Regions from separate parts of the Homo sapiens genome. Here region 2 is linked to region 1. The links come from fine-mapping of genetic effects on gene expression. A gene starts in region 1. The other region holds a variant in brackets. All regions are shown on one strand. Distances are from middle to middle.

Region 1 (8,564 bases):
TGATGACACAGCAAGAGTACATCTTAAAAAAAAAAAAAAAAGTAAGGAAATGCTGACACATGTTACAACATGATGGACCCTGAAGGCATTATACCAAGTGAAATAAGCCAGTCACAAAAAGGCAGATACTGGATGATTCTATTTATATGAGGTATCTAGAGTAGTCAAATTCATAGAAATAGAAAGTTGATTGGTGGTTGCCAGGGGCTGGAGGGAAGGGGAAGTGGGCAGTTGTTTAATGAATATAGAGTTTCAGTTTTGCAAGATGAAAATCTGGAGATTGGCTGTACAACAGGATGAATGAATGTATGTAACACTACTGATCTGCACACTTCAAAATGAGTACAATGGTAAATTTTATGTGTATTTTATCACAAGGAAAAAAATCACTAGACATCTAACTTTTCAGTAATGTGTCTATTTTCAGTTAAATTTGCCAGTTAACTGAAGCCAATATAGGCCAGTTTTCATATTCCTTAGTGTTATCACACTGGTGCACTTACTGTTTTACCATTTTCCCTTCTGATTTCATTTTTCTGTTAGCATTTACTACTATCTAACATATATTTTACTCATTTGTCTGTGTTCCCCATCAGAATATAACTTCATGAGGGGAGGGATTTTCTATTACACTTAGTGAAAAGTAAATCCCTCAAGTAGGAACACTACAAGTAAGCACAGTTTTTTTTTTACAGTAAGTTTGCTTAATGGCTAGTAAACTATCTCAGCCAGTACCTGAGTGACTATTCTGACTTGTATCATTTAACAAGAAAAAAGGCCTGGCGCGCTGTCTCACGCCTGTATTCCTAGCACTTTGGGAGGCCGAGACGGGTGGATCACTTGAGGTCAGGAGTTCCAGACCAGCCTGGCCAACATGGTGAAACCTCGTCTCTACTAAAAGTACAACAATTAGCTGGGCGTGGTGGCACATACCTATAGTCCTAGTTACTTGGGAGGCTGAGGCAGGAGAATCGCTTGAACCTGGGAGGTGGAGGTTGCAATGAGCCGAGACTGCGCCAGTGCACTACAGTCTGGGTGACAGAGTAAGACTCCGTCTCAAAATAAATAAATAAAATAAAATAAAATGAAAAAAAGTACTAAATGCAAACTTCTTAAGATCACATGCAACTTCGATGTTAAATACTAAATATTCCTTAAATTTAGACAGTATTCAATTTGGTAAAGATCAGAAAGTTATATTTTGTCATTTATGATATCAAGTGGAATGTATTATCAGTGATTATGATGCTTCTCGCAATGAGAGTTATAACTTTCTGGAAAAATCCTTGCTCAAATCATCAAAGTTAAGATTTCTTACTACATAAAGGCTATGAAGAGCTGACGTGTAATTATATTGGCTCTGCAAATATTGGAACAGAAATATGAGTTTGCCATTAGTGTAAGAAAAGCTTCAGAATATGTATGCAAATTTGGCAAATTGAGTTGGTTTTCCCCACGGTACTTCGAATAAAAGAGACATTTTAACAAATCACAGGTTCATAGAAAATCTCTAGTTTCGTGGTCTATTTTCTAAAATAATAGGAAATGAACTTTTAATAAAAGTACATGAGGACTTTTGATGAACGGTTTATTTTTCACAGAAGTGAAGTGCAGGTGAAAAGGGGAAATTCCTAGAATATCTGAAGGATCTGACTAAATGAATTTCTACCTAAGCTATTGATTTACAGTAACTTAAAATGTGATAATTTATCTCCTACAATGGCCTTTCAAATTAAATATAAAAGTAACTCAGAGTAAAGTATGCAGAAAAAATTTTGGTATTGTAACTGAAAATGACCAACATTAATTTTTTTCTCTCACATTAATCAAGCACCTTACTGTTAGAAGGGAAACTGACAAGCCTCCTCAACCGAGTTTATACAAAATTCAACCCCAGAAAGTAAAGCCAATTCGTGCACCTTCATAAGAAAGAAATAAAGGACGAACCTACACATTACAATTTGTAAAGAAACTTCTGTAGAGGCACCATCGTTCTACAACCTTATGCACTTTAAAATCTGAGGTAACAAGGCATTTGAAGATAACCAAGGTTGGCCGGGCGCGGTGGCTCACACCTGTAATCCCCCCAGCACTTTGGGAGGCTGAGGTGGGCGGATCACGAGGTCAGGAGTTTGAGACCAGCCTGGCCAACATAGTGAAACCCAGTCTCTACTGAAAATACAAAAATGAGCGGGCACGGATGGCGCACGCCTGTAGTCCCAGTTACTCGGCAGGGGTTGGGGGCTGGTGGGGGTGGTAGTGCTGAGGCAGGAGAATCGCTTGAATCCGGGAGGCTGAGGTTGTGGTGAGTAGAGGTCGCGCCGTTGCACTCCAGCCTGGGCGACGGAGCGAGACTCCGTCTCAAAAAAAAAAAAAAAAAAGATAACCAAGGTTTATTGCTACTTCCGTGATATCACCATATCACCAACTGCGTAAGCAGTGCTATTTAGTTGAAAATACATGGACTAGACCGAATATTTCTGCAACAGTTTAATAAGAGACGATGATGCGACTACTGCAGCTGTCCCCAGGCAATTAAACTCTTCGGCGAATTTCTTTACTATTGCTTTTGAACAGGGAACTGTTTGCTATTTTAGGGCACTCGTGCGGTAAAGAACTTCACTGAAAAATGCAAATATGTTTTGCTAATGTGGGAGAAAGATGATGATCCTCTGAACCTGTGACTTGGAAGGGGGGATAAAAAAGAACTATTTCTTGAATTCTTGCCTTGCTCTTGCTGATTCGATGCACACAACCCCACGAACATTCAGATTCATGGCTTGACAAAGTGGGGATAACCGGGAGCTGCAGCCCCGTCTTTGAAGCTTTTGTAAAGACAAACGGTCTGCAATGTTAAGCCTTAAATTGGCTTTTGGCGGACTCCAGCCTTTTACCCTTCGTTTGGTAGATGTTTTCACCTCGCTGTCATTAAGCAGGGTCAGGAAATGGAAGGGCCGTGACCGGGTCGCCGCGGGCGCTCTGTGGGCGATGAGGGTCTCCTGAGCGAGCAAGACCAGTCTCTCCCCGACTCGCCACGCGCCACGCGCCGCGCGCCGCGCGCCGGTTCCTCGGCTTCCCACGCCGGGGGCGCATCCTCCCGGGAGCTGCTGCCCTTTTCCAACATGGCGCCGCGGGAGGCGGGTCCCGCTCGTCGGCTCCCGGGGTTCCGGCGCCGCGCGTTTTGGTTCCGGAGTAACAGTGTCGCCGCCGCCTTCCTCCTCCTCCTCTCGCCGCTACCGCCGTCGCCGCCGCCGCAGCCGCCGCCAGTCCGCGCGGCCTCGGGTGGCCGGAGCTCAGCCTGCGCGCGCCGCGCCCTGTGTCTCCGGGTGGGGCAGAAGACTCGCCCCTTGAACCTCCCGCGGGGACTCTCCGTGGTGTGGCGGCCCTGGGGCTCTTTCTTAATAGCCCCGGACTGAGTCCCCTCCAGTCGAGGACCCTCTCCTAGTCCACTGACGAGCGGTGGACACCTGCCGCTGTATCTCCCCCAAACCGAGTCCTTGCCCTGCTGCCTCCTCATACCCACACGGCGGCAGAGACCTTCACCATAGCGTTCGCTCAACTCCAGAACCTTCCGACCTCCGCTAGTTCCTGCGGGCCTTTGCCCGCTTCCCGGTGCACCCTCCCCGGGAGACACCTCAGACCCCCGACAGCCTGGGCAGGCTCGGTGCCTGCGGGTGCGTTCCTGATCACCCCTCCCCTCTTCCCTCCCCCTCATCCTCCATTCCCTTGTTTTCACCCTCTGTCCTCTGCCCGTCACTCCCCTTGTCACCTCTTGGAGCCCCCTCCTAACCAGCGGCCAGTGGGTTTCCCATACCCCAGGATGTGAGCCTCTTTAACCTGTAATGCTGTGGCTAGCCCTTGGCCCCTTTCCTGCCATGGAGAACCAGGTGCTGGTAATTCGCATCAAGATCCCAAATAGTGGCGCGGTGGACTGGACAGTGCACTCCGGGCCGCAGTTACTCTTCAGGGATGTGCTGGTGAGTGGTAATCTCAGTGTCCGGATGCCAGCAAGGGGGACTCAGGGACTTGAGTAGTCAGCACCTTGACCACTGGTGACCTGAGCCAGTGGCAATGGCTACTGCTGGCTTCCTGTGGAGGCAGTTTTATTGCTTCAGGCACAGCATTGATAAATTGCAACCACTAAAACCTGGCAAATGTCTAGGACCCTGGGGAGATAGATCAATCTGACTGAACCCCTGCCCTCAGAGAGCTCATGGCCCGGGCTGGGACACACATATAGACACAACCACGCAAATGCAAACTGCTGAATCTAGAAGAGAGGTTTTTTCCCCCCAAGTGTTTCGGGGAATGTCCTTGGACAGATTCCAGCCTTGTTTTTCTACTGAGTTCTCTGAACTTGGTGACCAGCTGAGAAAGGGAAAAAGGACAACTTTAACTTACCATGTTTGAGCACACTGTTTCATTAATTTATTTTGAGACAGGGCCTCACTCTGTCGCTCAGGCTGCAGTGCTGTGGCACGATCTCGGCTCACTGCAGCCTCTGCCTCCTGGGCTCAAGCGATTCTCCTACCTCAGCCTCCCAAGTAGCTGGCACATGCCATCACACCTGGATAATTTTTGTATCTTGTAGAGACGAGGTATTGCCATGTTGCCCAGGCTGGTCTTGAACTCCTGCGATTTGCTTGCCTCGGCCTTCCCAAAGTGCTGAGATTACAGGTGTGAGTTACTGTGCCCAGCCTGAGCAAACTTAAAGCATCATTGAATGTAAGACATTTTACTTAGAAAAAAATGCTAACCATGACAGTATGACACATCATCCGTTATTAAAATGAGTCCAGTTTCAGAGACGGTAAAAGTAAGGGAAAATGTGCATCTTAGAATTGGTGATATTTTACATTCAGATTTTTCAGAATATATTTCAAATAAAATGATGGAATTTTAGAGCAGAGTGTAACACTGTAGGTGGCCTGTTCAGCTGATGTTTCTTTTTTGCAGATAGTTACTGAGGAGCAGTGAGGTGAAATGGCTTTTCCAAAGCTGTGAGCTCCTGAGTGGGAGAGTCAGTACCAGAACTAAAATTTTGTTTCATTGACTTAGTAGGTTTCTTTCCCTACATGTTGCAGCCGCTTCTAATCTTTCTGGTATTCATTTGAGATAGACAGGGTGCCTTGTGCCCATTCTACATGCAGAATAACTGAGGCATGGAAGACAGAAGCGGACATTCCGAAAAGCACATCACTACCTGCAAGTTAAGAGTGGGCAAGGTGGCAGGATCTTGGGAAGAGGAAGATTTGTGATGTGATTTTTCATTGTCTTGGGTAACTTAATCAAAATTTGATTTCTATAACTTCATTTTGAGTTCTAGATGTTACTGACTGCCCAGGCCATGCAGATTTTTGGGTGCCTTGACCAGGAGCTTTCCATATTGTGCATCAAATGCCATCCTTCTCTTTGTATCCGGAGTTCTCCACACAGTCATGCACATACAGATTTCCCCTCATGATAAGGCCCAGGCTCCTTCATGTGGTCCTCTGGGCACATCTGGATTGGCCCCTGTCTGCCTGGCACCTGTGTCATCTCTCTTCACGGCCCCATAAACTTCTGTGCCTCACTTACATAGGTTGATTTTCATTTCTCCCAGGTGTCCAGGCTGTCTGCACTCTGCTCTTCACCGGTCAATTCCCACCTGTCCTTCCAAGCCAAGTTGTGCTTTTTCTCTGTGTCATTCTTGGTTATGTGCCCCACCTCTGTGTCGTCACAGCTTTGTGTGGGTCCCCCAGCAAAGCACATGTTTGATCATGATTCTTTGTCTCCTCCACTAGATGGTAAACTTCTGGAGGAGATAGATATGTTTGTTTTTGTTTCTTCATAGGACCCCAAAATACTTGTTTAAGAAGGGAGCTTAAAAGAGGATGCATGCAATTATGGTTCTGTGGACAGAACACTAGGTTTAGAGTCAAGGAATTTGGGTTTAATTGCAAGCTGTCCCACTGACTAGGCAAGTCAGTCTACCTCTCTGAGCCTTAGTTTCCTTATTTGTAAAACAGGGAAACTTGTACCTTCCTCAAAGACTTGGAAAGATTATGTGAGATTGTGACTGTGATGAGAAAGATGGGTTTTCTCTTACTCATTTAAAACAATGGAAGGTTGATTATTATGTGATTATATTATTTGGTTATGTGATTATTTCAAGAATAGCCCAGTGTTTAAGACCACAAACTCTGGAGCCAGGTTGTTTAACTTGCAAGTTGTACTACTGGGGCAAGTATCTTCTGTATCTCAGTTTCTTTATTTGTGAAAAAAAAGTTGGGGAGGGGTGAAAGTAATGCCTACCTCCTAGAGTTCTGAGGACTCCTTGAGTTGATACATGTAAAGCACTCAGAACAACTTAGCACATAGTAAGCGCTCCATTAGTGTTGTTATTATTGATGGGATTGTTATTATAAGGGATTGGACTTGGGTCTTCTGTTTCTTGAGCATCTCTAAGTTGTACCTGGCTCAAGGCTGACTGGCTTAACAGGAAACACGAGTGGCCCCACCACTAGAGCTCAGCATGCCAGGTGTCTGCACACTTTTGGCTAGGTAAGCCCAGGTGGAGCATGTTTTGTCAGAAAGGCCTGACGAAGGACCTGTGGCAGTGGGTGTTCAGTGCTATCTCCTAGTGCTCCATTTTAGCAAATGTTCAAGCCCAGATCATGGCAGACTCCTGTGATCTGTTCTCCAGGTTTACTTCATCTCTTCATCAAGAAAAGGCAAGAACCAAGAGACACGTCAGCATCTCTGGCTTGGAACCTTAAACTTTAAAGTCACGTGGAACCTGGAAGAATCCCCTCATCTAATTCAGACTCATTTCGAATGAAGAGGCATGAACCCCACAGGGGGAAAATACCTTGCTAAAGCCACCCAGCTAATTTTTGGCAGAACCTGACACAGATGCCAGAAGCAGGTTGTAGTCACCGAGTCAGCCATAACTGAGTGTCTCGGACCTGAAGTCAGCAGTTGAGGGCTCCAGTCACTGTGCATCAAATAGCTGGGAGACCCTGGGCAAGTCAGTCGGTCTCTCTGGGCCTTGTCTTTTGTCTGAATCATCAGGGACTGGCTGAACTATGGAGGCTGACCTGACCCTCAAAGGTAGAGACATTTGGGTCTTCTGTTTTGCAGCTTTCTGTGTTTCTCTTTTTCCCTGGAGACTGAGTTCCTAGTTTTGGGAAAACTATACAAGAGGTCTGGTTAGTGTGTGATGAGAGAGAATGCCCAACCCTCTCCCCTCTTCTTTTTGTATTCTGTGGTCTCCAAGCTCAGATTTCCCCTCATCTATAAGACTTCTGGGCCAGGAGTGGTGGCTTAGGCCTGTAATGCCAACACTTTGGGAGGCCGAGGTGGGTAGATCGCTTAAACTCAGGAGTTCGAGACCAGCCTGGGCAACATGGCAAAACCCCATCTCTACAAAAAATGCAAAAATTAGTGGGGGCTTGGTGACACTCACCTGTGGTCCCAGCTATTAGGGAGGCTGAGGTGGGAGAATCTCTTGAACCTAGAGGTCGAGGCTATAGGGAGCTGTGATTGCACCACTGCACTCTAGCTTGGGTCACAGAGCGAGACCCTATCTCAAAAAAGAAGAAAACACACACACACACACACACACACACACACAGATTTCTGTCTAAACTGAGTCTGTGATTTTTTCCTTTCTCCTGAGTTACCAAATACTATTGGCTGTTTATGTCTTTTGTTTGGTGCTTATACTCTTAAGTGTTTTATATTACTAGTCTTTCAGGTTTGTCTTTATCTCTGTAACCAGTTTATAATCTTCCTAAAGTCAAGGATCAAGTTTTATTGTCCTGTAGCCTACAGCTTTGTGATCTTTATGCTCGTGGCATGTTGTAGATGCTCAATGATGTTTTGGATCTGTCAGATATTTGTCTGATTTATTGAAAGGAAGAAGAAAAGTATCAAAAAATGGTCATCATCAAAATATGTAAACTTCGGTTTTCTTTTTTCTTTTTTTTTTTTTTTTTTGAGACAGAGTCTCGCTTTGTTGCCCAGGCTGGAATGCAGTGGCGTGATCTCGGCTCACTGCAACCTCTGCCTCCCAGGTTCAGGTGATTCTCCTGCTTTAGCCTCCTGAGCAGCTGGGATTACAGATACACACCACACATCCAGCTAATTTTGTTGTATTTTTAGTAGAGACAGGGTTTCACCATGTTGGCCAGGCTGGTCTTGAACTCCTGACCTCAAGTGATCCACCCACTTCGGCCCCCCAAAGTGCTGGGATTATAGGTGTGAGCCACTGCGCCCATCCCGGTTTTCTTTTGAAACCTTCTTTAGGTTAGTTAGGTACATGTTATATTGTCAAGAGCAGAAGAAGGCCGCTTGGAAATAAGTCACTTTAGCTGGAAAATGTATATAAAATCATCAAATGTACCCTGCTTTAAAATGACTAGTAGATATTACTGATGTTTAAACTTCTTACCTCTTTGTCATTATGATTGCCCCACTTTATTTGCTTTAAAGAACAAAATGGTTGGTTGTGTTCACATGATTCTCTCACTCAAGTTTGCTTTGTTCTTTCTCCCTTTTCCTCGTATCAGGTGAGGAGCATG
Region 2 (8,564 bases), 260 kb after region 1:
GGTTCTAGCCCAACTGCCTGGTTGGTTGCCCTTGGGCAAGTTCTGCACACTGAGTGTCAGTTTCCTCTTCAGCACAATGGAGATGCATAGCTGTGTGTGGGCCACAGTGAGCATGGGAGCCAGTGGGCACATCAGGACAAACCTTTGGCAAATGCCTAGCACACAGCACTCCTTGTCCAAGTCAGTCCCTTGCAGAGTGGTGTAAAGCATCACGGATACAATGTGCCTCATCAGTAATACGAAGGAGATGGGGTCACCTCCCAGCTGGACTTGGTATTATTCAGTGTGCTATCTCCATCCATCTTTAAGAGTCTGGCCTTGCCAAGATGCCTAGGGCATCTGGCTGTGTGGAACTCGGGCACCTCTGGGTGGCCAAGTGAGTTTTGTGCTTCCTCCCAAATTCTCCATCAGATTTTGTTTGCTTGCTAAACTCATGAGGAATGCCTGCATTGTGCATGTCACAGGGTTAAGGGCGTCAGTTACAGTCTAGGAGGAAGGAGAGAGCCACACCTGCCAGGGTCCCAGGGGAGCCAGGCCAGCCCCGAGAATACTCCAGAATAGAAACCAGGAGACATGAGCTCAGTGCCAGCTCCTAACCCCTGTCTTCCCTCCCTGGGCCTCAGTGTCCTCTCCTCTAACATGGGGGTCATGGTGTATTTTCCCTGAATCCCATGCAGGGCTGATGGGAGGAGGGGGAGTCAGTGACTCTCCCAGTGTGTCCAGGGGACAGTGCTGATAGAGGTCAAGACCTGGGATGGTCTAGGCTTACAGCCTGCAGCCCTGGTTGCACCTCTGGCTAGGCAGGCCTGAGTCGCCAAGGTAGAAACAAGATGAGGGGGAATTGCAATCTGAATATTGATTCTCCCTCCTCTATCCAGGAAGAGCCCAGGGCAGTGGGTTTGGGTTACAGACTTGTGGTTCAGTCCCATGTCTGGGAGCTCAGGCAGGTCAGCTGTGACCCTGCAGCCTCCATCAGTAAAGTGGAGGTGATTGTGCCCACCTGTGTGAGTTAACACTTCTTTGGCTGCAAATAACAGAAACCAGCCCCAGCCTGTGAGGTGCCTCACAGGATCCTGTGACCGTGTGGACCCTGCAGGCAGAGACGCTGCCAGGCTCTGGGTGTAATGGCCCCAGGGTCTCCAGTGCCGTCACGACCCCCCGCCTGCCTGCCTCTGGACAGCACCTCCTGCTCTCGGGTCCTACACACTGGCTTTCTCTGTTGTGTCCAGTCAAATGGTGGTGAACAGCTGCCAGCAGCTACCAAGTCCACAGTGCACAGCCTAGGACGCTGGGTCCCCTCCATGTCTGTCCCCTGTGATTCTCCCTGTCAGGCAACCACCCTAAACCAATCAACAGTGGCTTGGGACAAAGGCAGTGGGTCCAGGTCGCTTCCCTTGCAGGTGGGGTAAAGTATCGGGGATACAACATGCCTCAGCAGCAGCAGGAGACGAGGTCACCTCCCAGCTGAGGAGGGCAGGAGAGGCCGGCATCTCCACCGGAGCTGAGTATGGCTGCAGCTGAGCAGCCCTCTCCCCTCGCCTACCGGGGCACTTGGGCAAACTGCCTCCCTGCAGTGCGGCCATCCGCCCTTCTGGAATGTGGAGGAACGCCTCTACGCTCCCTCCTGCAGTTCCGCTCTGCTTGTTCCAGAACAGATGATAACAGAGATGGAGCATATGGGCCCCAAAGTCACCCGGCATTCTGGGAAAGTGACACTGTGTTACCCCGGGCGTGGGGGGAGGGGCCCGTCACTCGTGAGCACAGCTTCTCCCTTTGTTCTTTAGAAGGGCACGAGGTCGCCCCTCCTGAGCCTCCTGAGAGGAAGTGTGCACGCTTGGACTTTGGGAAGGATTTCCTCTGTCTAGGCAGCGATTTGGGAAAGCAGCCGTGGGGTGGGCATATATATGGGGAGGAGAACACTTGGAAGCCAAAATCCAGTCCTTCCTGGGCCTCTCCTGCTCAGGCCCCAGACCAAACCTCTGCCATCCACAGGGCCACACCCAGCCTGGCCTCCATGGCCCCTGTGCCCTTAGGGGTCCTGCAGGTGTGTCAGGAGCCTCCCAGAGTGCTATGAGCAGATTATGGGAAGTACCCAGCTGGGCTCCAGGCCTAGCTCCACCCCAGTCTCAGCGGGTCCCTGCCCGGGGTTGAGTGCCTTGGCATCTTCGAAGCCGAGTTTCCTCCTCCTCCTCGCAGCTCTGACAGTGCTCTGTGTGCCTCTGAGATAGACCCACGCAGGGTGTCCCCAGGGCAGGTTTCCCAACCTCGAATGAGAAGGTTGGGGGCGGGCACTGCATCAGCCTAGGATGAGGCGGCCTGAGCATTCTCCTGTCCCCCACAGTTCTGACCTGTGGTCCAGAGGGGCCATGCCGTCCCCTGCTCTACCCAGGCCTGGTCCTTGACAGCCCCTGCAGGCGCTGAGGTTGGGACAGCCAGGGTCCACATCCCTCCTGGCTTTGTGATGAGCTCGTGGCGAGGCCATGCGGCTCTTTAAGCAGCCTCTCTAGGGCTGCAGTCAAGGCTGGGGTGTGCTGGGAAAGCAACCCTGAAAGCCCAGCCTGTGCAGGTGGAGGACAGGCCCAAGAGGGGCTGAGGAAGCTGGAGGGAGGAGAGAGCTGGGGGGAGCGAGGAAGCGGCCGCTGGACAGGGAGGGAGAAGAGCTGGGGGCAGGCACATGGCGCCCTCATCTCCCCCATTCTCTGTCCTCGCTATGGCTCCCCGAGTCTCACCATGCAAGCTGCACAGTTTTGGGTAGGAGAGGAAGCCACTTGGTGTAAGTTCCTGGGCAAGAAGCCACTTGGTGAAGAGGAAGAAAAAGAAGGCTTTTCACTTTTCCTTTCACCTCTGACTGTGGCCTGGTAACCCTGGGGTTGTCCCTGCTTTTTTCTGACCTTCCCTGGGAATTCCCAGGAGGCCCTAAGATTGTGGATGTAAATCTTGGTGCTTCAGGACAGCAGAGAAGAGAACTGGCTAAATAGAATCTGGTCTGCCTGTGTGATAAGTGGGTTAGAACCAGAGGCAGGCCACAGGGCAACAGGGCCGGCCCCTCCAGAGTCCAGCCCCCAATGGAACTTCTCACCAGGAACCCAGAGATCCTGTGCACAGCCCAGCACATTCCTCCCCCTCCCCACTTCCCCTGACATGTTTGCCTTCCCTCCAATTGCAGGTGGTGACTTCTTTTTATAGGAGAGCTGTAGACAAAGGAGAAAGCTAAAAGGGATTGACATAGCCTCTGACGAGATGATTCTTTGGTCTCTGGGCACCAACTGAACCGGAAAGCTGGCAACACAGTGCCAGGCCTCGGCTGACTGGCCGTGCGAGTGATGCCGGGCAGAGGAAGGGCCAGGCAGAGTGTGCAGCGAAGACAGGCCCTCGCCCTTAAGCACCTTCCAGGCTAGTGCGAGCCTCAGGAAGAGGTGGCAGAGTCTGAGATGTGCCAGCCAGCACTCCACACGCTTGGTGCTGACTACCAGTATGTCACTGCTCGTCCCTGGGCCTCAATTATCTAGGCCGTGAAATGGAGCTGATAGCCTCCCTCGTTACCTCACAGGGTTACTGGGGAAAGAGATCAGATCCAGGCTGAGGGCAGGCCCTGGAAAGTACAATGAGCGCGGGAGTCCGAGGACTGCCTGTCACAGCCTCCTCCTCTTCCCCGCAGGGCCACCCGTTCATCGTGCAGTTCAATGATGGAAATGCCGCCGTGGTGTCCATGTGGGTGTGCCGGGCGCTGGAGGAGAGGCGGAGCCAGCAGGGGCCCCCGTGAGGCTGCCGCAGGGCACTGAAAGCCCAGGACCAGTAACCAAGGAGAACAACCCACCCGTCGCCCTTCTCCGTATGCTGCCTGCGCCAGAAGAGCTTTGCTGGGCCCTGGCTTCCCTGCCCTCGCCTTCACCTCTGTCAGCAGGTGGCCTTGCCTGGGGAGCCCCATGTGTGGCCCACCCCACCAGGCCATCCCCATACCTTCTGGTTTGAAGGCGCTGACACTGGCAGAGAGGTAAAGGGTGGGGCATTGAGAATGGAGGCTCCCAGGGTCCCTGCCCACTTCTGTTTTCCTAATGTTTTTCTCTATAAAGGGTCAGGCCCGTCAGCATCACTGATGGGAATAAAAGTATTAATG[C/T]TTTGTGACAGCCTCTGCCATAAGAGTTGTGTGGTCCAGGGGGTCTGTGACCCCCCCCAGGGCTGGGGGCAGGTGGGATCTCCACTTCAGCAGGGATGTGTGTGACAGTGCCTGCTGCCTGCCCAGGCACCTGCAAGCCTCCTGCTAGCTCCTCGCAGTTGTGCTGAGGCCCACAGCCCAGCTCCACTGTCAGATGAGAAACAGAAGCACGGAGGCATTGGGATGGGTCCCATGGCAAGGAGTAGGCCCGGATCTCAGGCCCCCGCCATGAGCTCCTTACTGGACTGCCAGACACATCCACCTGACCTGCGTGGCTGAGGAGGGAGTGGGCTGTTCTGAGAGGCCCTTCTCCACCCCAGCCCCACCCCTGCTCCTCACTGCCCTTGACCCCACACCTGCCACCTCTCACCTCTCAGGAAATCCCCTCAGCCACATGCCAGGTAAGCCTGGCTACCCCCATTTTGCAGGTGAGGAGCTGAGGCTCCAAGGGGCTCAGGATTCCACTTGAAGGTCTGAATAGCATCTCAACACGTCCAGAAGCAAATTCCTAATCCCCCACCCCACCCAGACCTCCTCCTACTGCTTTCCTGTGTCAGTAAATGGCATCTCCATCCTCCCAGTGCCCAAGCCATTTGGCACTCCCTAAAATGCCAGGACATGGCTTTGACTCCCTTTTCACACCCACATCCAGTCCTGCTGTCTTTGCCTTCAAAGAATATTGGTTCCATCACCCAAAATTCTCTCTTGACTCCAGCCAGTTGGTCTTCTTGCTGCTCCTTGAACATCCGGGCACATAACCACCCAGGGTCACAGCAGAGACGTCTAGCCATGGAAGGTTCACACTCCCTCCACAGGGTACCGCGTTGCTAGGGAGCCACTGCCCAGCTGGGCTTCCATCTCATGGGTGGGATTGGTGCTATTATAAAGGGTGAGTTTGGAGCCAGGCACAATGGCTCTCGCCTGTAACCCCAACACTTTGGGAGGTCGAGGGGGGAGGATTGCTTCAGCCCGAGTTCAAGACCAGCCTTAGCCAACATAGTGAGACCCTGTCTCTAACAAAACTTAAAAAATTAGCAGGGTGTGGTGGTGCATGCCTGTGGTCCCAGCTACTTGAGAGGCTGAGGTGGGAGGATCTCTTGAGCTCGGGAGGTTGAGGCTAAATGAGCCGTGATGGCACCACCGCACTCCAGCCTGAATGACAGTGAGACCCTGTCTCAAAAATAAATAAAAATAGTGAGCTAGGGATCAATTATTTTGATGGGGTTTTATATGTTACTAGCAGCTAGTATTATGCCAGCTAATGTAGGCCTTTGCATTTGGTACCTGGAGCATGCTTCCCTCATGCATCCACATGGCTCACCTCTATACCCTTCAGGTCTCAGCTCAAATGGCATCTCAGTGAAACCTACTTAACCACTCTAAAATCGCACCCCTCCCGCACCTGCCCTGGGGCCGCCTGTGCCCATTGCTTGCACCATTTTCCTCTACTGCATTCAGAACTGTGTGATACATCACTAATTTTACTTATTTTCTCTTCTGTCTCCTTCCTCTTCTGCCCTTCATTAGAATGGGGTCTCCACAAGGGCAGAAATTCTAGTCTTTTTCACACTGTATCCCCAGTACAAAGAACAAGGCCTCAGCTCTGCACAATAAATGTGTGTGGGTCAAATGGCCAAAATTGTGGAGCTGTGACTCCCAGCCCATGTGCAGTCCAGTGCCCCATGGAAGGGCACCCTATGTGAGGCATCATGTGCTTCCCAGGGCAGAGTCGGCTCATCATCTTTTTAGTAATGCTTTTCAAGGCACAGGCTCCCAGCTTTCTCTGAGCACCTGCCATTTCCCTGGGGTTAGATGGTCACAGAATTGGATGGGACCCCGGCCAGGAAGACCCTGGCCCAGTGCTCAGGGCAGGGAGAACTGCGGGCAGTGCACATGATGGACTTTCTCAGGAAGAGGCGCTCAGAGAGTGGGGAAAGCTTAGGGGCTCCCACACGGGGCTGACTACCTTGGAATGTGAATCAGCCACCACCCAGACTAAAGCGTATCCTTATTTTGAGAAGATTCATCCAGCAAACCTGTCAGCCCCAAATCCCAAGTCAAGGGCGGTAGGAAAAGTGAGCAGGTACCTTGCTGGGCAGTGTGCTTAGGGCTCACTGTATCAATTCGTTTAATCCCCACCATGATCCCAGGAGGTAGATGGTGATACGATTATTCTGCCCGTTTTACAGATGAAGAAACTGAAACACAGAGAGGCCAGATGACTTACCCAAGGTCACCCAACAAGTAGCAAAGCACTGTTTGGGACCCAGAGCCCTGCTCTTAGCCACAGCTCTGATAGTCAACTCCACACACACAGCACACATGTGCACATATGTACACACAGACACATGCCCTGTCCTCTAGCACAGAGGCTCCCAAACTCTGGTTTGCCAAGATAATGTTAGTACCTTTGGGAACGGGCCAAGGATCTCTTTGACCAGCTCCCCAGGGATACAGGTGCAGAGCGCCCCACAACAGCACTGAGAAACACTGCTCCAGACGCATGCTTTGGCCTGGAGACCAACTTTCAGGGTGATCTTGAACAAAGCACGTCTCCTGTCTGAGTCTGTTTCCTCATCTGTCAATGTAGGGGTTGACCTCACGGTGTCCTGGAGCTGCTCCCAGTCCTGATGTCCCAGAGCAGAGTTCTCACCATTTGGGTTCATCCTGTGAGCATCCTTGCCCCCAAATTACATCACCCACATGCATGCACGCACAGAATTTTGTTCACAACTCTAGGGTTTGTGGAGACCCTGGAGCTCACTCACTCATGACCCCCTGTCAAGGGCCCCTACTTTGGGGCAGCCCCCAACTATAAATTCCCCTCTGCCTTGAAGTCGAGAAGATGGGGAGCTGAGTGACCCCTGAGGGGTTCTCCTGCTAACACCCCTCTGGCCGGAGGCAGGTCCCTCTTTGGCCTGTTGAAGTGATTCCTCTAGTCACCGTTGGGGGCCAGAGGCCAAGCTGCCCCTGCCCTCAGAGGTCGCGGGAAGGCTAAGACCTAGAACACTGCAGTGCCTGAGACTGGCCTAGGCAGCATGAGCTCTTTCCCTGCTGGAAAGCCACCCCCGCCCACCCTCACCCCATCCATGTGGCTAATTCCTATTCTTCCTTTCAGGCCCCTCTCAAACAGCACCTCCTCTTTGCTGCCTTTTTTTTTTTTTTTTTTTTTTTTTGAGACAGAGTTTCGCTCTTGTTGTCCAGGCTGGAGTGCAATGGTGCACTCTCAGCTCACAACCTCTGCCTCCCAGGTTCAAGCGATTCTTCTCCCTCAGCCTCCCGAGTAGCTGGGATTACAGGCATGCACCACCATGCCCGGCTAATTTGTGTATTTTTAGTAGAGATGGGGTTTCACCATGTTGGTCAGGCTGGTCTTGAACACCTGACCTCAAGTGATCTGCCTGCCTCAGCCTCCCAAAGTGCTGGGATTACAGTCGTGAGCCACCACGCCTAGCTGGCAGCTTCTTTATTTCCTTCTCTGGATATAGACTGTGAGCCCTTTGAGGGCAGGGATGAGGCTAACTCACCTCTATCCCAGCACCTGGCCCAGGGCCTGCATAGGGAGGGTGCCTGTGGTGTGGGACGGTAGGAGGGAGGGAAGGTAGGGTGCAGAGATGGGGCCCTCAGACCTGAGGCCCTTGGGGCCTGTCACTGTCCTGCTCGAATCTCTTGCTCCAATCCTCAATATCGCCCACTCACTTTCTAACTGGAGCTTCTGAGAGACGAAACCCTCACTGGAGGCAGCCTCAGGCCTCTCAGACCTTCAGGGGAGCCTAGAAGGAAGTGTTTCCAGGACAGGAGGATCCTCACGGGGCCCCAGTTCACAATGACAGGCAGGTGCCTCCTCTGCTTCTAGGTCTCTGGCTTGAAGGCCAGGAGGCCCTCTCACACTCAGCCCATCGTCCTTGCTTCTGTCTTTGGTTTTCACATGTGGGGAATGCAGGATACAGAATCCCAGGGCTTTGGAGATGTTCCAACAGGTCCACTGGGGCAGAGGAAGGAGAGGTGGAACCCTCTTCTCCAGATGTGGCGGGGACCTTGTGGTCCAAAGTAGTGTGACCCAGAGCCCCTACCCAAGGCCCAGCCCAGTTAGGGGGTTGGTCAGGCCAGTGAGGTGAAATGGATGGTACAGCCTCACTGAGGGAAGCTGCGGGTGCCCTGCCTGAACAGACCTGCATCTTTGGGGAGGCATATGCTTCCAGGTGTCTGCACACTCAGGCCAGTGGAACCTCCAGGTGAAGCCTCGGGATGATGCTGGGTCTGCAGGCTGGCAGCCCCTGGGGCCCCACAGGGTGGTTCAGAAGGGACTGGACAGCGGCTTCCACATGGGATGGAGCCCAGAGAGGGCCATGATGCCACCTCAAAGATACCTTCTGTCCCCCTGACTGCTGCCCAAACTCCCCCTTGG

Evidence for each region. PIP is the estimated chance that this variant, and not a neighbour inherited with it, causes the effect.
Region 2: its variant is fine-mapped to the expression of MAP2K5 in whole blood (INTERVAL, PIP 0.94).

The regions. Positions count from the first base shown.
Region 1 is chr15:67,539,494-67,548,057 of GRCh38, forward strand. It overlaps MAP2K5 (mitogen-activated protein kinase kinase 5), which reads left to right and starts at 3,210. Exons shown (of 22, transcript NM_145160.3): 1 at 3,210-3,977. The coding sequence starts at 3,843. It overlaps MAP2K5-DT (MAP2K5 divergent transcript), which reads right to left and starts at 3,137. Exons shown (of 1, transcript NR_186334.1): 1 at 1,575-3,137. RefSeq lists enhancers at 27-116, 2,150-2,650, 2,303-2,352, 8,314-8,564 and a silencer at 3,226-3,345.
Region 2 is chr15:67,802,988-67,811,551 of GRCh38, forward strand. MAP2K5 (mitogen-activated protein kinase kinase 5) reads left to right here. Exons shown (of 22, transcript NM_145160.3): 22 at 3,659-4,127. The coding sequence ends at 3,763. Among named protein-coding and RNA genes, the nearest start is that of SKOR1, 18 kb to the right of the region's middle. RefSeq lists enhancers at 797-1,659, 1,660-2,520. The variant C/T (reference allele first, on the strand shown) is at 4,118.